Linked DNA regions of Homo sapiens: all the other regions are linked to region 1. Evidence: fine-mapped expression QTL. A gene starts in region 1. Each other region holds a variant in brackets. All regions are shown on one strand. Distances are from middle to middle.

Region 1 (6,301 bases):
AGTCTTAATAGCAGATCTTCCTTTGGTTTTAGAGGTGTCTTTCAGAAATACATTTGAGCCCTAAATATGTATGTCTTTGTTAATTTAATTCAACAAATAAATGATTAGTGTATATATAAGTTGTACCTATATTCAGATGAGTATCACTTTTTCACACCATAAAAATTTCTAAAATACTGTATTTTAAGAACACAAACGATCCTTTTTGGGACTTCATCAAGATATATATTCTTGCCTTCCACACAGAGCATCATCCACTATAATACATGAATGACAAACTTTATATAAATCTTCCCTGAGATAATGCTATGTGTTATTCAGCAATGAAAAACATCAATAAATTGTCCTGCTTCCATTCCCACTACAGTAAAATTATATAAAAATATTAACATATATGTACCTTAATCAAAAATAATAGATGCCTTACATAACTAAACCACTTCTGCCATCAATAGGCAATCCATTCCATTTAAATTCTTAAGGTGAAATACCTGGCAGATCTCAAAACATTTTACTGGTTTTGAACAGGAAGTACATTTTTTTTTCTTCCTCACACTCCAACTGTATTGGGAGTAACGCATGCTACTGGGTGATGGTGACAGAACCCTAAAGAACATCTCCTTCTTTTAAAATGTTAACCACTGCTTCTAATTTCTGAAAAATATTTTTTGCCCTTTCAGTATGTGGCCCAATATTTTCACCAATGATGGATCTCAGCTTCTATTCAGTATTCCTGGAATATTCCACACCCGATGGTAATTTTTGGTCTTCCTTTAGTATTATTCTAAATATTCGTCTTTGTTAAGAGCCACCTTTCCAAGACCCTGAAACTGCATTACTGAGTGTAAAATGACCACATATGGTATGCACAAACACAGCACAGCACGCTGAAAAATACATACATTACCGGCTGACAGACACGGGGGTAATCACACCAAGCAAACACAATAAGCACTCTTTCATTTATTTATTTATCTATTGCTTAGACACACTCATCAAACATATTCAGTGCCCACTGAGCCCAAGGCAGTACACAGCACAGATAATATCTGTTAGGTGGCTTCAGCAAACTGGATTATGTCAAAGTGTGAAATGTGAAGTGAATCTGACTTCATCAAATAAACTGAACTCCAAGGCCATTTCCCAGCACTCACTCCCCCACCTCAAACACACAAGCTTAACTTCGCCCTCCTTCCTCTTCTGATGCTCAGACCATGACTTCCTTCTCATCCTTCTCTTCTCTTCTCTTCTCTTCTCTCTCTCTCTCTCCCTCCCTCCCTCCAAGTATTTCAGCAGCTTTCCTCAGTTCTCTGAGCCAATCCCTCGGAAAAGGAAATCAGCAAAATGCTGAATGGGGAGACTTCACCAGCAGGTGAAGAGGAAAAGAAGAGGGTGTGGTACTCGTTTTCTCCACCACACCCCATCCCTGGAGTCTTGCACTCCAGTCTACTGCGGCTCAAAGCGGGCACAGCAGGTCCCCTAGCTCACCTCGGAGCAGCCTGGCCCAGACCAACCACCCAGCGTTCTCCGCAAAAAACTTCCCTTAAAGCAGCCAAATATTCAAGGGAGGCGGGGGAAATTGGGCATTAGTTCGAATACACATACAACAGAGCACCACGGAGCAACACTGAAAGGCACCTTTTTTAGATACAGACCCTATAGACTCTCTCTCACCCTTCACTCCCTCCCACCCTGAGTATCTGACTGAGAATTTACAGAGAACCAAGAGGCGAAAGGAGAGTGGAGGAGAAAGAGGGCATTACCTCCCGGGGCTGCCCTCAGGGTGCGGGTCAGGATCTCATCCCCGAAGTGGCTCCAGTTCAAGGCACAGCTTTCCAGAGCTCAGCCGGGTTCGGACCTGCGTCCCCGCGGCGCGGTGCGGAGCTCGGAAGCGCGCCGGGACTGCCGCTCACGTCCCCCGCCCCTGCCGCGCGGGCTCCGCCACCCCGCGAGCACGCTGGCTCTCCGCGCTCACCCCGCCGCCTCCTGGCGCCCCCACACCCACCCGCTCCGCGGCGCCCGCTGGGAGCCTCTAGCGGAGGCGAAGGGAACAGCAGGCGACCTGCGGCGCCCAGGTTCCGACGCCGGTTGCAGGGAGCCGGCCAAGCGGCAGCGTGGGCTTCGCGCGCCCCCGAGTCCGCAGGCCGGGTGCCGCCGCCGCCCCCACCTGCCCACCTGCGCCAGGCTCACCTGCCACCGCGTCCTAGTTGCGTTCACCGGTGCCCACAGCTCTCTATGGCAATTGGGGGTGGGTCTGCGGTGCTAATAAAAATTTAAAAAAAAAACCTCTCTGGTAAAAAAACGAAAACCCAAAACCCAAATCCACGCTGTATATCAACCTCCACAGAGAACCCAGTCCGAAATCGTTTTCCAATAGGTTTCAGAAAGTGTGAGGACAGGACACTCCTCTGGCTTCCTGCCTCGCAGCTGGGCAGCGCCGCACCGGCTACTCCCTGACTTGCCAGGCGGGTCGTGCGATCGCGTAGCGACGCCCGGAGAGATCCTCCTAACTTGACTTAACCCCCACCCCATCCCCAACATCTATTTTAAGTTATTGTCTCTGGCAATTCAAGCAGCAGCTTTGCTGCCTCTTACCTTGAGGCGCTGTTAATTCTCCTTCGTGTCCTTAAAATCCCAAGCCAAGGATGCGACGCACACAAGTCCAGGGGCTTTTCCTGGACTTCCCCCTCCTCAGCTCTGAAGGCTCCTCCTTTCCAAGGGATCAGGAGGGGATGGCGGTTCAAAAGCCCTCACCATAGAGGCGCCTCCAAGCCTTCGTACCAGTGGAAATGGAGACCGGGACCACCTTCCCGGCACCCGGAAGCCTCCCAGCCCCTCCTGGGCCAACTTGGCTGCCTATTCAGTTTTCTTCCGTAACCCCACAGACACGTCAGTCAATTCCCTGGCATCAGGCAGGATATTCTCAGTTGCGGCCGCTCCTCTTGCTTTCTCTCGATAATGCCCCTCCCCCCTTTCTCCCCTTAATTTGGAAAAATTTCTACTCCCTGCCCGAATTAGGTGGGGATGAGGCGGAAAGGTGTAAGAAGAGCCACTCCAAGGCACAGCTTCGGAACACCGTCTCCCTGGGCTGCTGCAGCGCGAAGGTGTCTACGCTGGGGAAACTTTCAGGGGAGGCAGCGCCGGTGCGGGGCTGGGCGGGCGGCGGGCGGCGGCGCCAGGTGAGGAGGCTTTGAGGAGGCGGCTGCAAGGCGGGACGCAGGATAGCCGGCTGGGGCTTGGCAGCCGGGCTCAGAGCTCGGGCTGCGCACACACACAGGCGCGCACACCCGCGCGCGCGCAGCTACACACGCACGCCCAGCCCTGCGCCCGCGGCCCCCGGCCAGTGGCGAGCGAAAAGTCGGGAGTCCTGAGGAGGGGTAGGGGTTCCAAGGATGCTGATGACAGAAAGAGTCAATCAATCCTCACTAGTTAGCGGATTGCCGGCAGGCAGTTCCTCGCCGCACGCCGTTAAGTCCGTTGGGCCACCTCTCCGTTCTCTGCCCTGTCTGGCATTTCAACTCCCTAGCTCTTTTCTTGAAGCCAGTTACACCCCCTCGACACCCAGCGAGAGGCCACCAGACTAAAGATGAGCCCCGTTCCCATCGCCACCCTCCAGGGGCCACCTCCGCCCCTTCTGTAGTGGAGAATTGAAGTGGCTGCAGCAGCTCTCCTGGGAGCTGAGGGGCTCCCCGAGGTCCTTCGAATAGAGGAGCCTACACATCGCTTCGTGAACATAATCCCCTCGCATCCCGTCTTTACCTGCCCACTCCCTTCGTAACATTTCCCCCAAGGAGCTCCCGAAAGTCGCTTAGATGTTTTGAAAATGAATTTCTTAGGGAATTGTAGTGCCTAGCTTTTGGAACTGGGTTAATTTAGGTGCTACGCTTATATTGTAAACTGGACGGTAGCAGGTGAACGGCTCAGCTGGAGAAAGGGGAGGGATTAGGAGTCTGGAGACCCAACCCCTTTAGCAGCCATTTCCAAGGTTTTGCACCAGGAGTAGCTGTCCGGGTCTCTGGCTAGCTCCTGTCCCAACTTCTTTTTCTTCCCTCGACGGTCGGGAGGGATCACTGGGTGCTACACCGCTGGGGCGTCCCAGGCAGGAGAGACTTCGCTCTCAGAAGCGCCCCCGTGTCATCCACAACTCCCACGAAAGGAGCTTCCCAAGAGGAGTTTGTTTTACCCGGAATGGGCTGCAGGAATTAATTGCTTACAGAGAGTAAACTTTTGCCCGTTGTTTTTTTGTTTTTTGTGCTTTTTTTAACCAAAGCTTGCATTTGTGCTCCGCGTAGTTTCTATTGCAACAGAGCGCTACTCTGCCTTTTCAACTGTGAGACAGAGGATTGCTGAGGATTTCTGCCCTCTGGGGCTTCGCGAATATCTATGGCTTCGGACCTGCTAGCGGAAAACGCAAAGTTGCCCAGCTTGGAGATGGCACCAGGTTCCTTTGCTCTGGCGCTGGATGCTCCGCTCCGCCACCCACCGCCGCCGTCTCCATCGAGAATCTCCTCAAAATCAAGGGAGTTCTTGACTGTCCCTCTCCAAATTGGAAGGCGGTTGACTTTGCCGGGAACCGAGTTCCTGAGCGGCAAACGTGGAGTCGCAGAGCGCAGAAGTGAAGATTTAATACAAAAGATGAAACTTGTAGGATGACCTCTAGCAGCGCTACTCACAGCTCTGAAATCGATCCAGAGCATTCCACAGTGAGCGTTGCGGCTCCCAGGGGCTCCGGACCGGTAACTTCAGGCGCAAGTCTGAATTTCAGGGATGAACCTGCTTTGGATTCTGTTTGAGCCGACTCAGTGCAGAGGCAGTGACAGGGGCTGTGGGTTTAGGGGTGATGGATCCATGAAGGCTGCCACTTGGAGCGAGCAGACAGTTGGCGATACCCTCCCACTAACTTGCTCCGCTGCTCCGGGCTGTTCACAGACAGACCCACGCGTAAGGATTTAGAGTGTGTATGTCCAACGCCCAGACTTAACTTCTGGTGCAATTAAGGGAAGAGCTTGAAGCTAACCCGCGCAGCTTGCCTGAAGAAGTGAATAATGAAATCGGTGATGAGGTGCTAAGGAATAAAAAGAGGCATTTTGTTTGCGTGTGTATTAGTTTGCCAGGATTGAGTTTTTAGGTTTGATGTCCTAAAATGTATCTTCGACAGTGACTCTTTTGCAGCCTTTCAAGAGGAGGATGTTCGGCAGTATTTTGGAACCTGGTATGAATCTATACATTGTCTGCGTGCCGCAATATTTGATGCCTCTTCGAGTTCTAATTCTTATTCCTAATTAATAAATGACTGTTCCTGATAATGAAGTGGGAATAAGAATTATAATAAACTATTTCCAACAAAAGGCCATCTTTAACTTATGATTTCTGATTGTATAAGCCTATCAATTACCAATAAAATATTCTGCAGACTATTAGGCATGAATTGCAGAGCTGTAATGAAGAGACTCACTTGGTTCAAGAAAATTCAGAATTTAGAGCGACTCCTCTCCAAAAAGGTTGTGACTTCAAATTCCTTTCTTGGTTGCTGTTGGTATGCAGGCCACTGTCTGCAACTGAAGTTTCTGTTTAAAGTAAACATAGGTTATTTACATATTCATTAACTTTAATACGTGAAGGGTGCCTTACAGTGGTAGGAAATGTTGTGGAAAGTCTTGTACCAGCCATGGCGAAGTCTTTTTACTTGCTTTGAGTTTTTGATGTATGCGATGTGTATGCAGTAGTGGTAATCCATAGCATAATATTCTTGACATTTAAGCACCCTCAAAAAAAATAATAAAAACCTGTAGATTTATGGATCCTGTTCAAAAAATGGAAGAGGATAAGGATCACCCTTTTCCCCCTCGCCTTTTACATTTTGCTTTTATGGGGGAAATTATTTAACAAACAAGGAGAGCAAACCTCAGGATCAGAGGATGTACCCCATTCCCGCTACCCTTAGGTCTATCTATGGAATTGAAAAGAAACTATTGAGACTCAAAGATACTGTCAGATCCAAGAATCTGATTTCACCACCAAATTAAAATAACTACAGCATTATTCCAGTGTTGTCTATGTATTTATGTTTTCTGATAATTGAATTTGAAATATATGATATCTCTTCCAATGGAAACATCTTGATCCTTTTCCCTCCTTAAGATCATTTCTCTACAAACTGCCATTTTCAGAACACCTTTTACTTCTCTAGAGCATAGCATTCAGTCTATTGGTGTACTGTCTTTTCATAGATAAAAGCTATTCTTTCTTTACTGGTATGCCTTTGCTACTGTACTGTGAGCTCTGAGAGCACGGATCTTGT
Region 2 (6,301 bases), 350 kb after region 1:
TGTTGTTTTTATCTTGTGGCTACTTTAATAGATAATTGTTACCTAAGTGTAAGCATTAAATCCATTCTTTTCTATTTGTAAAGATAACTGAAACAACTGATATAACTTTTTAGCAGTGAGGTTGTTTCAGCATGTTGTATTGACAGTTTGTGGTCAAGTGTTCAGTAAGGTGATTGTGTCACTATTTAAACCTTAAATTAAATATACTTTTGACATTGTAAGTTAAATCAAAGCTTTCTCTTTTTATTTAATTGATTATCAAGAGTATCTGTGGTGAGGATCCATATGCTAAACTAAGATATATAAAACAAAAACATCCTTATATTTAATATTTTGACTTGCCAGGCAAGTTGTCATTTCTATGCTTATTAAAATACTGACCATCTCTATTCTCTGATTCAAATGGCTAGTCTTCAGAGGAATGTTTTCAAATTTGCAATTTGATTCTCTATGTATAATTCCATACTTTCATATATTATTATTTCTAAAAGAAGTGTAGAACTCCAATCTATATTTTTTTGTTTTCTTTTCACTACTCTTCTAGATAGGTTTGATATGGTTTGGCTGTGTCCCCACCCAAATCTCATATCAAATTGTAATCTCCACATTTTGGGGAAGAGACCAGGTGGGAGGTGATGGGCAATTTCCCCATGCTGTTCTCTTGACAGTGAGGGAGTTCTCACAAGATCTGATGGTTTGCCCTGTGCTCACTCTCTTTCTCTCACCTGCCACCATGTTTGATGTGCCTATTTCCTCTTTCGCCATGATTGTAAGTTTCCTGAGTCCTCCCCAGCCACGCAGAACTGTGAGTCAATTAAACCTGTTTACTTTATAGATTACCCAGGCTCAGGTAGTTCTTTATGGCAGTAAGAGAACTGACTAATGCAGGAAACTGGCACTGGTAGAGTTGGGTACTGCTATAAAGATAACCTGGAAGTGTGGAAGTGACTTTGGAACTGGGTAATGAGCAGAGGCTGGAACAAGTTGGGGGGCTCAGAAGACAGGGAGATGTGGGGGAGCTTGGAATTCCTAGAGACTTGTTGAATGACTTTGACCAAAACTCTGATAGTGATATAGACAATGAAGTCCAGTCTAAGGTGGTCTCAGATGGAGATGAAGAGCTTGTTAGTAACAGGACTAAAGGTCACTCTTGCTATGCTTTAGCGAAGGGACTGGTAGCATTTTGCCTCTGCCCTAGAGATGTGTGGAACTTGGAACTTTGAACTTGAGAGGGATGATTTAGGGTATCAGGTAGAAGAATTCCTAAGCAGCAAAGCATTAAAGAGGTGTCCTGGATTATTCTGAAAGTGCTTAGAGTTTTATGTGCTCACAAAGAAATGGTTTGAAACTGGAACTTATGCTTAAAAGGGAAGCAGAGCAAAAATGTTTGAAAAATTTGCAGCCTGAATCTGTGCTAATAAAGAAAAACTCATTTTCTGGGAAGGAATTCAATGTGGCTGCAGAAATTTGCATAAAGTAAGTAACTAGTAGGTGAATGTTAATAGCTGAAACCATGGGGAAAATGTCTCCAGGGCATATCAGAGATTTTTGAGGCAGCCCTTCCCATCAGAGGCATGAAGCCTTAGGAGGGAAAAACGGTTTCATGGGCCAAGCCCAGGACCCCACTCCTCTGTGCAGGATCAGGACTTGGTGCCCTGTGTCCCAGCCATTTCAGCTCCAGCCTTGGCTAAAAAGGGCCGAGATACAGCTCGAGACATTGTTTCAGAGGATGCAAGCCCCAAGCCTTGGTAGCTTTTATGTGGTGTTGGGCCTGTGGGTGCACAGAAGTCAGGAATTAAGGTTTGAGAACCTCTGCCTAGGTCTCAGGGGATGTATAAAAATGCCTGGATATCCAAGCAGAAGTCTGCCACAGGGGCAGAGCCATCATGGAGAACCTTGCTAGCGCAATGCAGAGGAAAAATGTGGGTTTGGACCCTTCACACAGAGTCCCCTTCTCACTACTCCATTAGGCAGTGGGACACTACCTAGAGGAGCTGTGAGAAGAGGGCCACCATCCTCCAGTCCCCAGAATGTAGATCCACCAACAGCTTGCACTGTGTAACTGAAAAAGCCTCAGGTACTCAATGCCAGCCCATGATTGTGGCAGTAGGGCCTGAATCCTGCAAAGCCACAGGAATGGAGCTGCTCAAGGCCGTGGGAGCCCACTCTTTGCGTCAGCATGCCCTGGATGTGAGACATGGAGTTAAAGAAGATTATTTTGGTGCTTTAAGATTTAATGACTACCCTGCTGGATTTTGGACTTGCATGGGGCTTGTAGCCTCTTTGTTTCGGCCAACTTCTCTCATTCGGAATGGGAACATTTGTCTAATGCCTGTAACCCTATTGTATTTTGGAAGTAACTAACTTGCTTTTGATTTTACAGGCTCCTAGGTGGAAGGGACTTGCCTTGTCTCAGATGAGACTTTGGACTTTTGGGTTAATGCTGGAATGAGTTAAGACTTTGAGAGACTGTTGGGAAGGCATGATTGTGTTTTGAAATGTGAGAATATGAGATGTGGGAGGTGCTGGGAGTGGAATGATATGGCTTGGCTGTGTCCCCACCCAAATCTCATCTGAAACTTTAATCCAAATTGTAATCCCCACATGTCAGGGGAGGAACTTGGTGGAAGGTGATTGGATTGTGGGGGTGGTTTCCCTTATGCTGTTCTCATGATAGTGAGAGAGTTCTCATGAGACCTCTTGGTTTAAAAAGGGGAAATTTGCCCTGCACTCATTCTTTCACCTGCCACCATATAAGATGTGACTTCTTCCCTTCTGCCATGATTGTAATTTTCCTGAGACCTCCCCAGCCATGCAGAACTAAGAGTCCATTAAACCTCTTTTCTTTATAAATTTCCCACCCTTGGGCAGTTCTTAATAGCAGTGTAAAAATGAACTAATACAACATTCATTAGCATATTAAACTAGTCTTTTAGCTGTCTCTTTCATTATGTTCATTTCAGCTGATGGGTGCATTTGCATAGGTTGAACAATGCAGAGGAGGGGTTGAATGAGATAATTTATCAGTCTCTTTACTTAAAACCTTGGGGGAGAAGAACAAAGAAAGTACAACAAAATACCAGAAGAGACGGGGAAAGAGTAGAAATCAAGAGAGGAAAATAAGCTGAAGTGATCACTGGTGTCAAATGTTGCAGTTTGTCTCATAATTACAGTTACTGTGTTCAATGTTAATTTTCTCAGCAGGGTAATTTTTGAAGGATGTACTTTAACTTCTTCACTCTTTTGCTTCCATTTCAGCCATGCTGGCCTCTATTATTAATAAGATTATACAAATTTCAAGAATGTTGTAGATGGAGAAGGCCTTAGAAATCGTTTACTTCAATCACTTAATTTTTCATAGCTAAAAAGATGGAAGCCAAGTAGTTTGCCTCAAATTCCCAACTAGCAGAACAGTGACAGACTCAATATTTTGGCCTCCTCATCAAAAGCTCTCTATTGCTCTAGAGCCTCATTCTCACTTTACTCTTTTCTTCTGTGTTTGTTCCCCACCCTCTTTCCTAAGGAGATAGTCAAAGGAATATAGTGTTTCTTGATGATGAACACAGTAGGATGCTTCTTGTAAGCAAATGATTAGGGAAGTGAATCACTGGTTGTTGTAACATTTTTTTCTTATGAAGAGCAGGCTTTTGGGTGTGTTGAGATGACA[C/G]TTAGCATTTCCTTGAAACAATGTGTGCTTTTGTGTAGTCAGGTTTATTATAGTCATAAATCATGAGGACCAGTAAGGAGGAAGGTTCCATTTCCTTAGCTTTATTTTGTTCCCTCAAGGAGCGACTATGATGCAAAGGCCTTTATATCTCACTACTGCTAATAAAGGAAAGGCCAGATGATGCATTTTCTTTGCTATCTCCTACTCAGAGTTATACAGCATTTATTTCAGCCTTAGCTTTAATAGATAATATTTTTTCCCTTCATTATATTACATATGAGCAGAAAGAAGGCAATCCTGAATCGTTTGGGTAGAAATCTTAAAAGCTATGTATTTGCTAAGAATGAAATTATTCATGTCTCTTAGAAACCTGAGGATTACAGGCATCAGACCAATGATTCAACAATAAGTAAAACAATCATAATAGCTATAACTCATTGCCTATTTATCTATCATTTCTTACTTTGTACCATGCACAGTTCTATAAACTATTATTGTAATCTTCATTTAAATAAGAAAACTGAAGCACTGACAAGTTAAGTAACTTTTACAAAGCCACACAGTGAAACTCACTGTTTAATCAACAAATTATATATGAGTTCATTTGATTTCCCTTCATTTTATCTAAACTACCAAAAAGACATGTTAGCATGCATAATAATTTCATGTATTTAATTTTCAATACAAAACATTGATTACAGTACCTTAATGAAAATTTGTAATATTAAAGACCTATGAGAAGCTTTTTAACACTTCTATAATATTTAATTCAAATTTTTATTAAAACTATACCACTATAAATATATCCTAAATAATAAATCAATAGGCAATATTATATTTAGGTTCTAAGATATTCATTATAGCATTATTTGCAATAGAAAATATTTGAATCATAAATGTTCATCCTTAGAGAACTATTTAAATGGATTATGACATGTCTATATGTGCCATAAGTAGAATATTATGTAGCACTTGAGATGGTATTTTGAGAAAATGTTAATATCATAAGGTAACAGACACGATACAATATTGAGTAAAATAGTGATATTGAGTAAATATAATATTGAATAAAATAAATTTTACATGCAATATAAACTTCATTGTGTAGACACATACACATCCAGAGAAAAGCAATGGAAAGAAATACACCGAAGAAGTTGTGAGTGGTTATCACTAGATAATGAGAAAACGGAACATTTCTGAGTATGGCTTTATACTTTATTTTCTAATTTTATCCTGTGTACATAAGCAATGAAATTTGCTTAAAATATTATTTATCCTTTGGCTTAAATATTCTTAATAGAGTTGTTATTTCTGAATAAACTAAGGTAGTAGATGTAATAATGCTTCATGAAAAATGTATTGATCTTATAAAATTTATCTGACTTCTAGTTCCTATATGAAAAGTTTTCCTTAGAAAATAGTATTTATGATAATTTCTAGATTCAACATTTAAATAAAATTGCTCTATAATTGTGAACTAAAAAGTGTAAAAGTTAAACATTTGATTAAAGAAATCCTGTGAAATTTATGAAAATGTTATAGTTCTTTGATATAGAATATTTAAAATTTAGAAATACATAGACATTCTATGAAATGTAATTGATTATAAAATTCATATAGCCTAAACATTTTCTCTACCTTTTTTTTTTTTTTTTTTTGAGACAGAGTCTCACTCTGTTTCCCAGTTTGGAGTGAAGTGGCATGGTCTCAGCTTACTGCATCCTCCGCCTTCCGGGTTCGAGCGATTCTTCTGCCTCAGCCTCCTGAGTAGCTGGAATTACAGGCACCCGCCACCATGCCCTAATTTTTTTGTATTTTTAATAGAGACGGGGTTTCACCATGTTGGCCCGGCTGGTTTTGAACTCCTGACCTCAAGTAATCCTCCGTCTCCCAACATGTTAAGATTAGAGGCGTGAGCTACCGCGCCCAGCCCTTTCTCTACTTTTGGAACAAAGACAAGTCATATGAAAGTAAACTTCTGTAGGCAATTTAAGCTTTGTTAGTCATGTGTCAGGGAATTACCAAGAGTAGTTGCTCATTCACTTTCATCTATTAAACTGTCTGAAGCTGTCTTTCTTTTACAATGAGATTAATGATGTGAATGATACTTCTGAAGAAAGTCAACATACGTAGTTATTCAGGTAATGTGTAATACATTTTATATAATGATGACTTCGATTTTAAAAAGATTTTCTGAAGTTTAAAAAAAGTTTTATTATATAACTTATAACAAATGCATACTATTTTCCAGATAATAATATTAAAGTGAACATTGATTACCTGGAACATTCTAGCTAGCTAAAATTTTCCTAAACTTGCATAAAGAACATAACTTACAAATGTAACCCCAGCAGAAAATATTTCCAATCTTTCTTCTCCTTTTTTGCCAGCATTCCTGGTAAAACTGGTCAGACATACCAGAATCTAGATATTTGAAAAGGTTGCTAACTGGCTAAGCCAGATACGATAGCCAAGGTTTCCACAATTTATTTTAGGTTAATTTTAAATATGGGTTAAATATACTTGGCATGGTAAAGATTTCTGAGCTAGCTCGCTTTGTTCCTATCCTCTGACTTTTTCCATTTCACTGCAGTTGTTCACCCACTAACTAAAACCATAATTATCATTTGT
Region 3 (6,301 bases), 90 kb after region 1:
CTTCTATTAAATTTCAAATTTAATAGTAATAACTATTTTTGTGATAATATTGTCATCTAGGTTGAAGGTAAATGACTTTTGATGATAATGTTATTTGGAAATAATCATGGTAATAATAATAATAACAAGAAGAATAAAACAAACATTTGTGAGAGTTTCATCTCTGATAGGTACTATTCTAAGTATTTTACATATTTTCATGTATTAAATAATCACCATGATTGTATGAAGTAATTTTATAAATTCCATATTACAGATAGGAAAGTGAGCCACATAGAATCAGCCCATGGTTCTTGACTCCAGACCCTACAATGTACTACTTTCAGGAGAAAGGTACATTCTATTCTCAGGTTTCTTAAATAATTAGTTAAATATGCAAACTGACCCAACAATTCCAGAATTTCTCTTAAAGAAGTGATTAAAGCTATGACAAAAACTTAGGTACAAAAGTAGACATTGCGGCATTATATACAATAGTAAGAAATTAGAAACTGTCTAGTGTCCAGCAATAGATAATTTATAGTTATATATCAATACTGTGTATGCAGATTAAAGACTTAAATGTAAAATCCAAAACTATGAAAACCCTAGAAAAAAACCTAGCAAACCACTGGGGACATAGGCATGGAAGATTTTATCATGAAATTGCAAAAAGCAATTGCAACAAATGCAAACATTGACAAATGGGATCTAATTAAACTAAAGAGCTTCTGTGCAGCAAAAGAAACTATCATCAGAGTGAACAGACAAACTACAGAATGGGAGAAAACTTTTGCAATCTCTCCATCTGACAAAGGTTTAATATCCAGAATCTACAAGGAACTTAAAGAAATTTACAAGAAAAAAAAACCCCATTAAAAAGTGGACAAAGGACATGAACAGATAAAAGAAGACATACATGCAGTCAACAAACATATAAACAAAGCTCAACCTCACTGATCGTTACGGAAATGCAAATCAAAACCACAATGAGATACCATATCACACCAGTCAGAATGGCGATTATTAAAAACTCAAGAAAAACAGATGCTGCCAAGGTTGCAGAGAAATAAGAACACTTTTACACTGTTGGTGGGAATGTAAATTAGTTCAACCATTGTAGAAGACAGTGAGGCAATCCCTCAAAGATTTAGAACAGCAAATACCATTTGACTTAGCAATCCCATTACTGGGTATACACCCAAAGCAATATAAATGATTCTATTATAAAGATACATGCATGTGTATGTTTGTTGCAGCACTATTTACAATAGCAAAGACATGGAATCAACCCAAATGCCCACCAATAATAGACAGGATAAAGAAAATGTGGTACATACAACACCATGGAATACTATGCAGCCACAAAAAGGAATGAGATCATGTCTTTTACAGGGACATGGATGGAGCTGGAAGCCATTATCCTCAGGAATCTAACACAGAAACAGAAAGCCAAACACCACATAATCCCACTTATAAGTGGCAGCTGAACAATGAGAATATATGGATATAGGGAGGGGAACAACACACACTGAAGACTGTTGGGGGAGGGCGGAGTGGGGAAGAGCATCAAGAAAAATAGCTAATGCATGCTGGGCTTAATATCTAGGTCATGGGTTGATAGGTGCAGCAAACCACCATGGCGCACATTTACCTATGTAAAAAACCTGCATGTCTTACACATGTACCCTGGAACTTAAAATATAATAAAATTTAAAAAAATACTTAGAAAACAATTTAATTATGTGGGTGATAATTTTCATGTGTTAATTTAAGCAAATTATGGAAGAGTCTATACAGTATAATGATAATCTTCATAAACACAAATCTATGTTAACACACACACAAGTGTGAAATATTTGAAAGTTTGTTCACTGAAATGTTACTATATTTATCCTTGGGTGGTTATGATATTGGTAATATTGAATTATTTGTCTGTATATTCTGATTTTTCCATAATGAGAGTATGTTTTCAAAAAAAGTCTCTGTCACAATCACAAGCTCAACACCTGTGACACTTCATGACATTTAGAGAGAGTTAAGCAAGTCCTGCAGAAACTCTGGAGTTCAAAAGGAGTATAAATCAGTCAACTAGGTAAAAATATGCATCTTTTAACAAACATGAACTTTCAGCCAAGGACAAAGAAGACTTTGTAAGTTGTATAGAAAGGAGTAAGCAATAGGAAGGTGACTTTTTTCATTTCCCACTAATGTATCTGCTAGCACTTGCTTTTAGTGGTTCTAAGAGTCTAATGCCTGTTTGTCCTAAATGATGGCAGTTTCACAGCTTCCTGTGGTAAATAGATTGTTCTAAAAACTCACAGTTTAATAGTCAGAGCAATCTTTCCTGAGAATCCATTCTAAGGGTTCCTTCTCAGTTTTCTCCTAGTCAGTCTTTCTTACATCATGCTAATTATTGATTGCTTCTAGCCTTTGCAGACTGGCTCATTCCTTGGGTTTTTACGGCAGCACCCTTTATTCTTAGATATTCTCCTCATAGCATAACTCATTTGTGTCCTCATCACCTTAGTTTGACTTCTTTGTATTTCCTTCATTTGATTCATATTTATTTGGTTTCCCTTAGTGCTTAAAGCTCTCATTTCTTGTTAACATCATTTAAAAAACCTTTTTAGAAAACATGATAACTGGTCAGACTGCTATGATTTATATATTATTAACTTTTAGGTTCTGAGAAAATTTACCCAAAATGTAAACATCATAAATTAGCTTTCTTTTGTTTACTAAGCAGAAATAGCAATTTATTTTCCATGGATGAGTAGAATGCTTTACTGTGAAGTTTATTG[A/G]CCTTTTAAGCTGATATTCTGCCATACAGTGTGACATTCTGCCCTACAGTGTGACATTCTGCCCATGAGAGTTTCCCCATAGATTGTCCTTGGGAGGAAGAGGAGGAATGGTGTATGCAGATTGCTTAGGGATTGTTTTACCTGCTCTCACTAGACTTCATGTGAATTTACCTTACTAGGAAACACTCATACAACACAGGCTCTGGAGCCAGACAAGCCTCAGTGTAAGGCCAGATCTGCTATTTCCTCGCTGTATGACCACAGGCACATTGCTTAAAGTCTTTAAGGCTTTGTTTCTGTATTTATAAGGAGGTAGTAATATCTACCTTAAAGTATTGTTATGAGGATTAAATAAAATAATTTATAAAATATTTTATATTCAGAGGATGCTCTGTGAAAGGTTTTTGAATGAATTAGTGATATAATTATTTTTTACTCTTCATATTCTTCTCAAGGTATCATGGTAACCTTAGATACTTATTTAGATGTTGTTATAAATGTTTAATTGATGCTCATTTTCTTCTAATACTTCTGTATTAGTTTGTTCTTGCACTGCTATAAAGAAATACCTGAAACTGGGTAATTTATAAAGAAAAGAATTTTAATTGACTCACAGTTCCACATGGCTGGGGAGGCCTCAGGAAACTTACAATCATGACAGAAGGCAGCGGGGAAGCAGGCACTTCCTACAGGGCTAGAGCAGGAGGAAGAGTGAAGGGAGAGGTGCACATATTTTTAAACCAGATCTCATGAGAACTCACTATTATGAGAACAGCAAGGGGGAAACTTGCCCCCATGAGCCAATCACCTCCCCACGGACCCCTCCTCCAACAATGGGGATTACAGTTTGACATGAGATTTGGGCAGGGACAGAAATCCAAACCATATCAACTTCCTATGGTTTTAAATGTTTATTTCAATTCAAATGAATAGTATTTTTCAACAAGAAATGACATTAACTTATTTCAAGGGTTACTAGCATTAGTCTTGACAATGATTTCCTTCCTTACTGAGACAATGATCTCTAATAAACAAAAATAGAAGTATAATTAAGGAGTAAGTTATGTATGTTAATTAGCAGGCATATGTTACTGTATATAGACTGGTCAATTGTTACTGTCCCACTGCTCTTTAATACAGATGCTTCTGTTAGCTTGCTTGACCCTGTCATTAGGAATGTCAAATTATACAAAAGTATATACCTTGACATTATTCTTTCACTTTTCCTAGACTTTCGTATTTTAGATCTTAGCTGGCCATTTGGTGACTTCTTGTAGTGTTGTCTACTAGCTTTATCTATGGGTTTGTATCAGGCAGACCTGGGCTGTCTCCCTAGAACTGTCACACATATTGCGTTCTTGGGTAAGTGTATTAGTCCATTTTTATACTGCTATAAATAACTGCCTGAGACTGGATAATCTGTAAAAGAAAGACATTTAATTGACTAACAGTTCAGCAGGGCTGGGGAGGCCTCAGAAAACTTACAATCATGGCAGAAGGAGAAGGGGAAGCAAGGCACCTTCTTCACAGGGTGGCAGGAAGGAGAAGTGCTGAACAAAGGGAAAAGAAAACCATCAGATCTCCTGAGATCTCACTCACTATCACAAGAACAGCATGAGGGAAACCACCCTCATGATTCAGTTACCTCCACTTGCTCTCTCCCTTGACACGTGGCGATTTTGGGGATTATAGGGATTTGGGTGGGGACACAAAGCCTAACCATAGCAGTAAGTTAAGTATCCTACCTAGACTTAGATTCTTTACCCATAAGAAGAAAATAATAATAGTGTTTACTTTAAGTTGTTATTTTAAGGATTATTTTAGGTAATGCTATTGAAACACTTAGCACAAACCTTGCCACATTGTAAGTACTCAACTGTAACTATTTTATTATCATTATAATTTAAAAGGTCATAGTAAATATGTCTATTACAACATAAATGAACAAGATCAAACATGGGACAAATTCTGAGGTTTGCAGTAAAGGAATTAATTTCTTATGAATTGAAATGATGCCAAGTGCCATATTAAAATCCCCATCTAATTTGTGCAGAAATCATTCAATTGCTTTTTCAAAAGATGTAAATAAGAAACTGATATGGAACAACAATGTTTTAATTCTCCAGATAAAGGGGGATGCATTGCATGATAGAAATGGCTAATCTATTTTCCTGAGTCTTTTTATTCAATACAAGTAAGTGAACAGGATGAACACAGGGAAAAAATACTAAGGGAATCTTTGAACTGGAGATTAGCATGTAAAACACAAAACAGAAGTGGCGAGGCAAGGAAGATAAACAGATTTGTTACAACAAAAGCTTGAAAAAAAAGGAAATTTGTTTACAAGGAGGTGAAGATATATGTGGGAATTTATGTGACATAAAAAGAAATTATTATGATTTCTGGAAATCTTGGAACTGAAAGATGTACCTTATTTCCCTTTTCTCCTCCCAATCTGCCACTCAACTGCATTTAAAAAATTTTTCCTATTGGTTACTGTCATTATTGATGAATTTCACAGTGTTGGTTCTGTGGGAAGCAGACACTGACACAAATTTTAGTGTTTGGGAGCAGCTATTTGGTCAACACCCATAGGAGAGAGGGGAAGAAAGCAGGGCTGGCAAATGGGCTTGGATAAATCAAGCTGTTATGCAGATCTAACAGCCTCAAACCACCCTAGAGGGATCTCTTGAGCTAACATTTATGCAGCCAAAAAACACATGAAAAAATGCTCATCATCACTGGCCATCAGAGAAAAGCAAATCAAAACCACTATGAGATATCATCTCACACCAGTTAGAATGGCAATCATTAAAAAGTCAGGAAACAACAGGTGCTGGAGAGGATGTGGAGAAATAGGAACACTTTTACACTGTTGGTGGGACTGTAAACTGGTTCAACCATTGTGGAAGTCAGTGTGGCGATTCCTCAGGGATCTAGAACTAGAAATACCATTTGACCCAGCCATCCCATTACTGGGTATATACCCAAATGACTATAAATCATGCTGCTATAAAGACACATGCACATGTATGTTTATTGCGGCATTATTCACAATAGCAAAGACTTGGAACCAACCCAAATGTCCAACAATGATAGACTGGATTAAGAAAATGTGGCACATATACACCATGGAATACTATGCAGCCATAAAAAATGATGAGTTCATGTCCTTTGTAGGGACATGGATGAAATTGGAAATCATCATTCTCAGTAAACTATCGCAAGAACAAAAAACCAAACACTGCATATTCTCACTCATAAGTGGGAATTGAACAATGAGATCACATGGACACATGAAGGGGAATATCACACTCTGGGGACTGTGGTGGGGTGGGGGGAGCGGGGAGGGATAGCATTGGGAGATATACCTAAGGCTAGATGACAAGTTAGTGGGTGCAGCGCACCAGCATGGCACATGTATACATATGTAACTAACCTGCACAATGTGCACATGTACCCTAAAACTTAAAGTATAATAAAAAAAAAAAGAGAGAAAGAGAAAAAAATAAAATAAA
Region 4 (6,301 bases), 320 kb after region 1:
ATACAATATGTGGCCTTTGCGTCTGGCTTCTTTCACTTTGCATAGCACGTATCCACAATTTGTGGATATGTCTATTAAATTCACTTGCCCATTTTTAATTGGGTTGTTCTATTCTTGCTGAGTTGTAAGGATTCCTTATATATTTTAGATACTAAACCTTTTTGAGAGATATAATTTTCAAATATTTTATCCCAAAGACAATCGTGTCTTTTCACTCTTTATACTGTCATTTGTTGCATATTTTTTAAAAAATCGATAGTCTAATGTATTCATGTTTTCTATTTTGTTGCTTTGTGCTCTTGGTATCATATCTAGTAAATTATTGCTAGATCTAAGGTTGTGAAAAATTGCCTAAATGTTTTTCTTTAAGAGTTTTATAGGCTTAGCTCTCATACTTAGGTGTTTGATTCATTTGGAATTTTTGTATTTAGTGTGAGGCAAGGGCCCAACTTTTTTCTTTTGCATGTGGATTTCCATTTGTCTGAACATAAATTTGTTGAAAAGACTATTCTTTTCCCATTGAACAGCCTTAGCAACCTTGTTGAAAATAAGTTGACTGTAGATTTACCATTTATTTCTAGAATCTCAGTCTTATCCATTAATCAATATTGTCTATCCTGTGACAGTGCCATACTGTTTGGATCACTGTAAATATGTAGGAAATTTTACAAAAGTTTTGTGTTTGTCCTCCCACTTTGTTTTTCTTTTTCAATATTGTTTTGACCATTCAAATTCCTTTGCAATTCAAGATTTCATTCACCTAGAACTTCAGTTTATTTCTGTGATGTCTTATGATTTTCAGTGTGTAAGTCCTGAATGCCTTTGGTTGAATTCAGTCCTAAGTATCTTATTTCATGATGCTATTGTGGATGGAACTTAATTTTTCTTTTCAAATTCTTCATTGATATTGTATAGAAACACAATTTATTTTTGTGTGTTTGTATTATATTCTGCAACTTTGATAAATTTGCTTATTAGGTCTAATAGGTTTTTTTCCCCTAAGATTTTCCTTATATAAGATCATGCCATCTATGAATATACATAGTTTTACTTCCAATTTTTACTTTCCATTTCCATTTAAATTGACTTTTATTTTTTATCTTGCCTACTTCCTCTGGCTAGGATTTCCAATAAAATGTTTAATAGTACTGGCCAAACAGTCATCCATGGCGTACTTAGGAGGAAAGTTTCCAGGCTTTTATTATTAATTAGCATGTTAGCAATGATTTTTTAAAGACGCTTTTTATCTTTGAAGCAGTTACATTCTATTTCTTATTTGTTAAAGGTTTTAAAATTAAACCAAAAAAGAGTATTAGATTTTTGTAAGTGCTTTTTCTATACCACTTGAGATAACGATGTAATTTTTATTCATAATTTCATTGGTAAAATATATGCCATTAATTTCCATATGTTGAACCATCTTTGCATTTCTGAATAAATCTTAGTTATGATTCATAAATATTTTAATATGCTGCTGGAATTGTTTTGATAATATAGTGCTGAGAAGTTTTCCATCTATATTCATTAGTTATATGGGTGAGCTATTTTCTTTTCTAATATTATTTTCTGGTACTGGTATCAGGGTAATTCTGGCTTCATAGAATGATTTAGAAACTTTGTCCTCCTTCTCTATTTTTGGAAGGATTTTGGAAAGATTGGTGCTAATTCTTTTTAAAATGGTTAAAAGAATTCATCATTTAAAATGCCTGGTCCTGGCCTTTTTTATTGTCGTTGTTTAAAGAGTTTTTATTACAGATTCAATCTCTTTACTCATAATGGATCTCTTGATAGTTTCCATGTGTTTTTGATTCAGCTTTGGTAATTCATGTTTTTTGGAGAAATATGTGCATTTCATTTATTTACCTATTTTGTGGGCATACAATTGTCCAAAACATTATTTTACATTTTATTTTGTACAGGTTTTGTAGTAATATGTCCACTTTCACTTATGACTTTAATGATTTGAGTCTCCTTTCTCAATCTATATAAATGATTGTCAATTATATCAAACTTTTTCAAAGAACAAACATTTGACTTATTTGGTTTTCTCTATTGATTTTTTATTTTCTGAATCATTTAGTTCTGCTCTAATCATGATAATTCCTTGCTTCTGCTAGTTTTAGATTTAGTTTGCTTATCATTTTTTAGTTCCTTATGGTGTAGAGTTAGAATATTGAGTTGAGATCTTTCTTCTTTTTTTAATATAGGTATATGCAGCTATAAATTTTACTCTGAGCATGGGTTTTACTAAAACTCTACATTTTTACAAGTTGTTTATTCCTTTTACTTTGTCTGAAGACATTTTCTAAAATCTTTTGTGGTAAGTTCTTTGACCCATTGTTGAGAGTGTATTGTTTAACTTACATATATTTTGAAGTTTCCCAATTTTCTTATGTTATCAATTTCTAGATTCATAGCATCATAGTCAGAGGAGATTCCTTTGTATAATTAATATCTATATAATTTTATTGAGACTTGTTATGTGGTTTAACATATGGTTTATTTGGGGAAAGGTTCCACATGTACTTAATATTTGGTCTTTTGTTATGTGGGTGAAGTATTCTGTATATGCCCATTAGTTCTAACAGGTTTATAGGGTTGTACAAATCTTAATCTACTTGCTGATTTTTATGCTAGTTTTTCTACCTGTTATTGAAAGTGAGACTATGAAATCTTATTATAGAACTTCTTTCTTTTCTCCATTTTTAATTATTTATATGTTTGGGGGCCATGTTTTTGCGT[G/C]GGTATATGTTTTTAATTGCTATCTATTATGGGTGGATTGGCCTTGACTGTTGCAAACAATAATTGACAATATCTATTATACCTGAAATTACTATATGCACTCTAATTTTCTTTTCATCACTATTTTTTATGGAATGCTTTTGAAAAATGACTTACTTTCAAACTATTTGTATTTTTGGATCCAAAGTGAGTCTCTTGTTCACAGCATATAGATGTATCATATAATTGCTCTATTCTACCTATCTCTGGACTTCAACTGGAGATTTTTATCCGTTTACATTTATATCATTTATTTCTAAGAAAACATTTACTCGCACCATTTTGTTATTTGTTTTCTATATGTCATATATCTTTTTTGTTCCTCAATTCTTTCACTATTGCCTTCTTTTGTGTTCAATTGATTTTTTGTATTGTACTGTTTTGATTCCTCTCTGTATATTATCTATTATTTCATTTCTCAGTGGTTATCTCACTGATTACAATTAACATAATAAACTTAAAGTAGCCTATTATTAAATTAATACCATCTTAGTTAAAATGACATATAAAATCTCTGCTCCTTTACATCTTTGTTACTTCTCCTATATGTTGGTATTTTTGAAAATGACCATATGCTCATTAGCATAGATTTAGAATTATTGTTTTATGTTATATAGGAAAATAAGAGGAAATATAAAACAAAAATAAAATAATTCTGTATTTTATATTTACCTATGTGGTAACCTTTGCTAATGTTTCTTTTCATTTCTTTGCATGATTTTGATTTAATATTTGCTGCCTTTCATTTCAGCCTGAAAGATTCTCATTAGCATGTTTTATAGAGGATGTGTACTAGTAGCAAATGCCTTCATATTTTGTTTATTTGAAGATATCTTATTTACTGTTTTGTTAGGATTGTTTTGCTTGGCATAAAATTTTTGATTGACAGATCTTTCTGTTTGTTTCAATACTTTAAAAATATCATCTTTTTGCCTTCTGGCCTTTATGGATTTTTACAAAAAATTGGTTGTTAGTGAGAATCAACTGTACTTGCTGACTTCCTTATTTTCTACTACTTTCAAGATTCTCTTTGTCATTGTCCTTTGCCATTTTGACTATAACTCAGTACGGATCTCTTGGAGTTTATGCTTCTTGGAGACTATTGAATGCATTGGATGTAGAGACTCATGTCTTTCCTCATATTTGGAAAGTTTTTATTATCATGTCTTCAAAGATGTTTTTTCTGCTCATTTCTTTCTGTCCTACCCATCTGAAACTGCCATTGTGCATACATTGGTACATTTTATGGTGTTCCAGAGATCTCTTAAATATTATTTATTTTTTTAAAATTTATTTTGCCTCCTCAGGGCAGTTTCAATCGTCTTATCTTCTAGTTGAATGACTATTTCTTTTGTTTGCTTAAATTTTCTGTTGAGCTTTTCTAGTAAATTTTGCGTTTTAGTTATTGTACTTTTCAACTCCAGAATTTCTTTTTGGTTCCTTTTTAAATTGCTATCATTGTATTGATTCCCTATTTGTTGAGTCATTGTGCTTCTAGTTTTCTTTAGTTTTTTTTTTTTTTTTTTCCAGTGTCCTTTAGTCCTTTACCCTTTAAGCATATTTGAGACAGTGGGTTTATAGTCTTTTTTTTTTCTTCTGTTTTCCAGAGACTCGCTCTGTAGCCCAGGCTGGAGTACAGTGGTGTGATCTTGGCTCACTGCAACCTCCGCCTCCTGGGTTCAAGCAATTCTCCTGTCTCAGCCTCCTGAGTAGCTAGGACAACAGGTGCGTGCCACCACACCCAGCTAATGTTTTGTATTTTTAGTAGAGACAGGGTTTCACTGTGTTAGCCAGGATGGTCTTGATCTCCCGATTTCATGAGCTGCCTGCCTTGGCCTCCCAAAGTGGTGGGATTACAAGTGTGAGCCACCACACCCAGCCTATAATGTTTTTATAGTACCAAAACTTGTGCTCCATTATTATCAGTTTCTTTGGGTTTTCTTTCTTCTGTGAAAGGGCTATTGTTTCTTTTTTGCAGGCATCATAATTTTTTGTTAAATTGGGGCATTTGTATAATTATGATTTGGTATATCTGAAAATGAAACTCTCCCCACACCTCAGGATTTGGTATTATTGATTACTTTAAGTTGTAACCTATTTTTTGAAGACTGAATTCGTTTGTTATGTATAGTCTCAGAAGTCTTGGTTAATTTGGTGAAGTGGTTAGCTAGTGGTTTAACATATTTTTTCATCCTTCTGGGGTAAGAAATTTATAATGAAAAGAAAAAAAACACATTTTTAAAATCTTTGCCTATTGACTCTGTTTTGGTCACTCCTTCCATGCTTAGTTGGTTATTTCTGATGCTACCTGACCCTTCATTTCCTACTTCTGCTGAACATATACATGAGCCAGAAGTGAAAGGTTATGGAGTCTCAGATCATTTTTGAGCCTGCATTCCATTCTACTTGTTTCTTGGTTTTCCACATTCCCCAGTATATGCAGGAGATTTTTAAAGCTCGTATTTTAGGAAGTGTTTTACTCCACAACCTTTCCTTCAAAGCTTTTGGCATGTCTATTTTTTGCCCAACTGTTATCTCTTGCTCCAGGTAACAGAGGCTTGTTCATCTGCTTTTTGATTGTTTGAAGGCGCTTCCTTCCCAAATTTGTTTCTTCACCCTAACAGAGATCTGAGTTAGGCAAAATAAAGTCAAGCCTCTTGTGTCAGTCATTTAGGCAGACTCACGCAGGTCAAAATATACAAACATGATTCCTTTGGAATAAGGTCTGTTCTGCTGCCTACAGAACCAGGAACCCACACCAGGAATGCAGGTTGCTGATTTCAGGACTGCCATCACACTAGGGAATTGTGTGTGACAAGGGTAAATTAAAACTCCTCAAAGCTTTTCCACTAGGTTTAAGTAGTCTTTCTCATGATTGAACATTTTATTTATTGCTATGAACATTTGACCATCTTCCAGAGTTCTGGTAAAGTAAATTCACTTTTACCAGTTTATAGTTTTTAGGGGGGCACATATTTCTTGGGGGACAGTATACCCTGAAATTCCCTACCCGACCATTTTTCTGATATCTTGCTCAGTTCTCTTTTTTGTCACTACTACCGCCACTTTAAATGAGGCTACTATCAGCTCTTCCTGAAAGATAGTCATATACTTTTCACAAGTTATTTCATAGGTACATTTGGCTCCAGCTAATACATTCTCCATGAGGAGACCATAAAAACTACAAACTATAAACTTGATTATTATTTTTTCTGCTTAGAATACTTTAGAGTTTTATATAGACCTTTAGGCTATAAACCAAAATCATTTTAATGGATTACAAGACTTCATGGCTGGGTCCTTCCTCTCTCTACTTATATGTTTTCTTTTAGGTCTTTGTATTTCAGGTGCATGTACTTCCTTCTACTTTTTAAAATCAGTCTCACACATCTCCACTTTCTGACTCTTTCAGTGACTTTCTTCATTTTCTTCCTAGTTTTGCTTTCCCTTGCCTTTTTTTTACTTCAGAGTTCTCACATATGTTAATCCTTCTTTTACACATTTGCCTAGGTAGTCAACA
Region 5 (6,301 bases), 110 kb after region 1:
GAGTTTTCTGCCAGGGACAAGAGATGGAGCAGGGTATAAGTGATCAGGTAGGTAATATATCAAAAAGTTAGAGAAGGGGACAGTGCAAAACTCCCTTAAGGGAGGGAGGGAAGGGGGACACTCCAAAAAACACACAAATGGGCCTTAAAATAGAAAGTTAGCTTTTGGATGACGACTGTGTTGGAGGGCACCGAGAGCCACATTGTAAAAACAAAACAAACAAAACAAAGTAAAACAAAAACAAAACATTTGACACATAGCATATGCTTTGTCCTTCTTCCTTCAAAGCTCTCTTCCTATTCATATTCCCAATGCTGGATGTAGAAGACAGGTGGGAAGGAACAGAAAAGTTAATTGGAAAGTAAAACCAACTCTACAACTCCTTTCCCCACAGGCAGGTCTACAAGCCATGAGGCGGGCCTGAGACGAGCAAGAGGGGAAGAGCAGTGAGCCAGATTTGAAGCAGAATTTTTGTTTTAGAGTTCACTGGATGTAGAAAGAGATGAGATAGGAGGTCTGGTCAAGATGCTGTTCAACGATAGACAACCGAGGTATTACAAAGCATGTTGGTAGGCACTGGCAGGAGAAAATTCCTGAGTATACCATACCAGGTTCAGCTCAATCATAAACCAATAACCCATTTTTGGCAGAAATCATTTTATTCCCTCTCATCCACTCCATTAAGTTTGGTAATAGTCCTAGTTTTCATTTGGGGATCCTTTCTGGTAAACCTAATTCCTGACTCTAAAAACAGGGCTTATAGCTCAGGCTAAAATATTTCAGCATAAACTCATCTTCTGGAGACATTATTGGTTCAAAGAAGGGTGGCAACCAATTGCAGGTGGCTTGGGCTCCTGGTGTAGGGTTCACTGAGGGCTGGGATGGCAGCTTCAGGGATCTCAGCACCAAGCCCCAGTGGCACCTTCGGAATCTTTATTCCCCCAGCAATGGCTGTGACCCTGAGGACTCATTTGGGTCCTTGTAATTGCCCTCTGCTCAATGAAATATATGGCCTTTTGACTTTTACACATGCTTCTTGCCAACTTTTGGATCTGGGAGAGGGGTTGAGAAGACCTCATTCACATATCTCAGGCCAGGGTTGGCCATGGGAATAGCAAATATAATTAAAGAAATAGTCTCCTTCTGATAATCTCAGAACATCATCATCAGCTCAACTGATACAGAGCTGGAATATTAGAAGTCTTCAGAAGTTGCTTAATTTTTAAGGACGAAAATGCTGAGGGTGCTAATGGTCTTTATTTTTTTCATAGACATGGTGATAAGGATCTGTAAGACACAAGGACATTGGCATAGCTCAGAATGTGATTAAATGTTGTACATGAGAAATATGCAATGCAATTGTGTTTGTCAATTAAAAAAATAAAATATATACAGGATTGCTTTGGGGATATTCCCACCACCAGCCAGAATGTTAACTACATTTTGGATATTTCGATATGAGTTGCATTTTGATTGTAAGGTTACTCAACTTGCTATTCTTTATTCTATGGTGGCAAAAACAAGATAATTCCATCCAATCAAAATGCTTTGGAAGCTTTAATATAAATTGCAAGTTAGCTAAAATTATTAAAAGATGGCTAGGAAAATGCTAACGATCTGTGCAATTTGTTTTGTATTATTTCTCCTAAAATTAAAGTTGGAGAACTAAGTGCAAATCACCAGAACAGCTAATCCAAGTGGTTTTTGTACCACTTGTCTTTCTCATAGGGAGTTTGAACTTTTTAAGTGACATGAGAGCAATCATGGGACACTATACTGACAAAATGTGTTTAACCCTCTATCCAAGTTCATGTCATAGCAGGTAGTTAGGATTGGACACATATGAATGTTTGTTGAAGTGTTGTGCCTCTGAAGGAAAATCACAGATTCTTCAACCACATGTATTCATGTAGATTCCTGCAGAAATATCTGGAGTAGCACTCCTGGCTGGTTTGAATTATGGATTAACCAACGAATGCTTTGATGTATAATATTTCAATGAGAACCAAAGCTATGTCTCCTAGAGGGTTATGTGGCAGATGTATTTGTCCACATTAGACTCCTCATTATATAAGACAGCTGCGTAGATGCAGGACAATATCAACCATGAGGCTTATGCTTGCAGCCCAAGCAGACAACAAAGAGGTATAAAAACATTCTTCAGTGGCTACAGACATCTAGGACACCTAAGAAAAAAAATGTGGGTTTTATATTAAGTTTGGAAGGGGTGGTGTCCATACTTGATACCAAATATTTTAAATATCATTTTCATAATTAGTTATTCTGGGTATAATAAATGGAATTTGAAATCTATGCATGTCTTAAAACTCCTCAAAGAGAAAATTATACGTATTTTTTTAACTTATATTCTTGCAGCTAACTGAGCTTATTTTTCAATAATAGTATTTTTGGTTAACTTTTCTGTCCTGTTTATGGTAAACTCCAGAGGCATGAGAAAAGTTTGAAATTCTATAGAAAGCAGTTTATTTTATGCTTTTATTTAGTCTACGAGACACATTTTCCCAATAATACCAATTAACTACTCAGCCATCTTTTTGTTATTTGGAGAACTTTCATGTTATAGTTAGTAATGACAATTGTTATAAGATAGTCTTTGTGTTTACCAGTGAATGATTACAAGTAAAGTGGAAAACAATTTTCCCATGAGGAACAGCCACCCACTTTTCAGTGTCTACCTGAACTGTCTTAGCTCTGCAGTTAATATACCATTTTAAAATTTTCCTGAAAAAGATTGTTACAGTAGTTCTCTACAGATTTCTGAAAATCTACTCTGAATGTGTTGTGATTAATGTCGGAGGAAAATGTTATAGTAGG[C/T]CTAAAACAGAGAACAAAGTAGTGGTTCCCAAACTGACCAATTTCAGAATTAACTAGGGAGTTTTGAGAAACAGAAATTTCCTTTATCCTGCCCAGATATACTCAATCAGAATTTCTAGGGCTGGAGTGGAGTGGAGGAATCTCAAGAAAAAACAACAACAAAAAAGTTTTCCTGCTCTAGGAAGCCATTGTTTTAAAATTAATGGCAATACCAAATTTGCTAAAGTAACAGAGAGATCTATAGGTTTTCACTTTCACTTTTTGAAAGGTCAGGTTTCTAGACTCTTGGGGAGAAACAAACTGTATCCCAGGCTGATGCAATTAGAGGACAAAGCAGCAAGTTAGAAAAGAAACAAAATGACTACAGAATAATCAGTAAACTGAAAGATTTAAATCATAAATGTATAAGTGCCCTTAAAGAAGATATATGTTATATAGTCTCTAGATCTTTTCATCAGGAAAAGTCAAAATTGTTCATCACAAAGATAATCATTTGCATCGATATGGTAATCTCTTTTGGTCTTCAAAACAGTGAAAGATAGACAGGAACGTTTCTATCTTCCTCATTTTGAGAAGCAAAGCTTGTCTCAAAATTACAGATAATTGAGCCAAGGTACAGAAGCCTATGTGTGCTGATCTGTTCTATTTGGTGCTATGTTTTACAGGCAGAGCTGTGAAGTCAGGGGACGGTGTTGTGGGTGATACCTCACACTCTTTTAGTGTGACAGGAAAGTAATAATGCATTTCTTGTAAATGTTGATAGCAAAGGTTTGCAACTTAAAAGGGGAATTTCATATATTTAGAAAATACTTTGAGGTGAAACCCTCACTCTTTAAAGGATTATTTAAAATGGTAATGCTACTACCTAAATTGGTAGATTGGAAGGGAGGTTAAAGGGCATTTAATCATGTTCCCTCATTTTATAGGTGAAGACTCTAAGGCTCAGAGTGCTTTATGGTTTGCATAGTAATTCATAGCTAATCTGAACAATTTTTGGAAAAATAACATCTTTTCTATTTTTCCATCATTATGGATTTGTTAAAGATACTAAAATGAGCTAATTGGTGATTTGTTAGTTCAAATTGCTAATTTTTTAACTTTAAATTTCACTTTTCATGCAAAAATGAACCTTTTTATAATACTTTGAACTGAAGAAATCTTCTTTTCTAAATAAGATGTCATACAACTGAGATAAAGTTTATTATTTTACTTATGAAGGATTCCACCATTCCCAAAATTAAAGTGTTACTTTCTTTACCTGAACACTAATAATAATGGTGGTTTCAAAGGAGCAGCAAAAGAGAAATATTTTCTATTTTTCTTTACAAGCTGTTTACTGTTTTTATTTTGCTCTCTGGTAATAGACAGAAAATTATATAAAACAATATTTTGAGGGAATTTTTCTCCTGGTTGGTTTTAAATCACTGTGCTCCCTGAAACATTTCAATGTTTAAATTCTTCTCAAGTTATTATATTCACCAGTACCTGATTAATCCATTGCAGATATAAAAATGTATTGAAGAATAATAAATGGATACCATGTGATTTTTTAAAACTTGGACAGCTAATGAATGTGGCAACATTTTAAAGGAGGGGATAGAAAAAAATGTTCTGCATAATCAATAATGCATAATTCATACTTAAACATCATTAATTTCTAGCACTACGACATTTTTAAATGAATATATTGAAACGGAAACAAAATATTTTACAAAATGTTTTCCATATGGCAGTAATCTAAAAAATGGGAAAAATTTGTCATTCTTCACTCAGTTTGGCCCAACAAGACTAAATAAAATATTTGTTATGATGTGATGGAAAATAGGGATCTTCTGGCTTATCAGGAAGTTTCTGGAAGTGAGCCTTTCTTACCTAATTGATGTAAAAAAAAAAAAGAAGAAGAAATGTATAACTTTTCAACTTGTAACTGAAAGAAATGGCAGTTTGGGAATAATGGTAATATTACTGAAGGTAAAGCAGAGTGCTATAGAAAAGCTATCTCTTGATGATATTCTGTGGTCCTTCAAGTAAATTAAGTGCAAAGGTTGGCCTCTTTACTTTTATTTACCTAGGCCAATTAATGCCCTTAATTTTTAAGCCACTTTGTGCTTGAGTTTTCTGTTGCTTATAAATCAACGCCTCTTAACTGATAGATCATTTCAAAATCTAAAATTGTACCATGTGCTGCTGTCATTGATGCTGCGTTTTTCTTTGGGTTTTTATCCAATGATGTAAATGTTATAAAGCCTGAAGCTATATAAGAGTATCCATTTGTAAATCAAATAGATAAATAACCTTTAGGTATAGAAAATAGCCTCAATGGGATTATTGTAGAATTCCCCTAGGAATATCATGAAGAGTAAATATTAATGCCTTTTAATTGCTGTAAACTATAGTGTGAACTATAAAGTTTACACTATTGACATGCAGGATCATGACCAATTTTAAAGATGAGTTGATAAATATTACTCAAGAGAATAAATTCACATCCATATCTGCTCCAAAGTAATTTTCTCAAACTTGCATTTGTGTCCTAGTTAATTTATCAGGAAATGAATCTTTAATTTGGAAATATAGTAGTATGGAAAGTTTGTCAAACTTAATTTCTTTTTGTAGAACACTTGACTACCCATATATGATCTTAATAGGATAGTTGGAAACAGTTGATAAAAGTGGACAGTCTGTTTCACTGGCATAAAGTCATCCTTTTTGAGGTCATTTATATTTGTCTATCTTTGAGAAAGCAACATACTTGGTTTCGGTTTCTAGGTGGAACTTCTGAGTCAAGTTGCTGCTCAGAGCATGTGGTATTTTGCAGACTTCAACTCCACCTCAGCACTTGGTTACTAACCACTTTTTTTCTCTAAAACATGGGCAGTTTATATATTATGAACATTGTGTTTACCTTCAGGATATGGTAGTAAGTAGTTTCAGCCATTACAAATCATCATTTTTTTTTCTCACGTCCCTAAGAGCCCCTAATAAGCATTTCTAAGTTCTTCCAAGCTTCTCTCTCCTTTCCCAACTCAATGTTCTGCTCCTAATCTCAGCTGCTCCTATTTTATTGAGTCATTGGCACATGACTCATCCATTACTGAGATTGAGCTGTGTCTACCCCAAAATTGTGACAAATTTTACCATATCTGAATGGATGTATTCGTCAGTTGGGGCTATCATAGCAAATTACCATAGACTGAATGGCTTCAACAATAGAAACTCATCTTCTCGTAGTTCTGGAGGTTAAAAGTTCCAAATCAAAGTCCAACAGGGTTGGCCTCTGGGGAGAGCTCTCTCTTCCTGGCTTGCAGACATCTGCATTCCCACTATGTTCTCACATAGCCTTTTCTTGGTGGGTATGCAGGTAAAGAGAGAGAAAACTCTGTTGTTTACTTTTATAAAGAAACTAATCCTATTTGATCAGGGCCCCACCATTATGACCTCACTTAACCTTAATGATTATCTTAGA

Evidence for each region. PIP is the estimated chance that this variant, and not a neighbour inherited with it, causes the effect. A credible set is the group of variants that fine-mapping cannot tell apart.
Region 2: its variant is the best candidate, but not a certain one, in a credible set for the expression of LINGO2 in whole blood (TOPMed, PIP 0.54).
Region 3: its variant is the best candidate, but not a certain one, in a credible set for the expression of LINGO2 in whole blood (INTERVAL, PIP 0.86).
Region 4: its variant is the best candidate, but not a certain one, in a credible set for the expression of LINGO2 in whole blood (TOPMed, PIP 0.75).
Region 5: its variant is the best candidate, but not a certain one, in a credible set for the expression of LINGO2 in whole blood (INTERVAL, PIP 0.64).

The regions. Positions count from the first base shown.
Region 1 is chr9:29,210,327-29,216,627 of GRCh38, forward strand. It overlaps LINGO2 (leucine rich repeat and Ig domain containing 2), which reads right to left and starts at 3,275. Exons shown (of 7, transcript NM_001258282.3): 1 at 2,596-3,275. RefSeq lists a silencer at 1,866-1,915.
Region 2 is chr9:29,561,127-29,567,427 of GRCh38, forward strand. No RefSeq gene overlaps it. Among named protein-coding and RNA genes, the nearest start is that of LINGO2, 350 kb to the left of the region's middle. RefSeq lists an enhancer at 5,143-6,301. The variant C/G (reference allele first, on the strand shown) is at 3,668.
Region 3 is chr9:29,300,548-29,306,848 of GRCh38, forward strand. No RefSeq gene overlaps it. Among named protein-coding and RNA genes, the nearest start is that of LINGO2, 90 kb to the left of the region's middle. The variant A/G (reference allele first, on the strand shown) is at 2,784.
Region 4 is chr9:29,526,212-29,532,512 of GRCh38, forward strand. No RefSeq gene overlaps it. Among named protein-coding and RNA genes, the nearest start is that of LINGO2, 320 kb to the left of the region's middle. The variant G/C (reference allele first, on the strand shown) is at 2,743.
Region 5 is chr9:29,316,815-29,323,115 of GRCh38, forward strand. It overlaps the pseudogene PDK1P1. Among named protein-coding and RNA genes, the nearest start is that of LINGO2, 110 kb to the left of the region's middle. RefSeq lists an enhancer at 5,542-5,631. The variant C/T (reference allele first, on the strand shown) is at 2,836.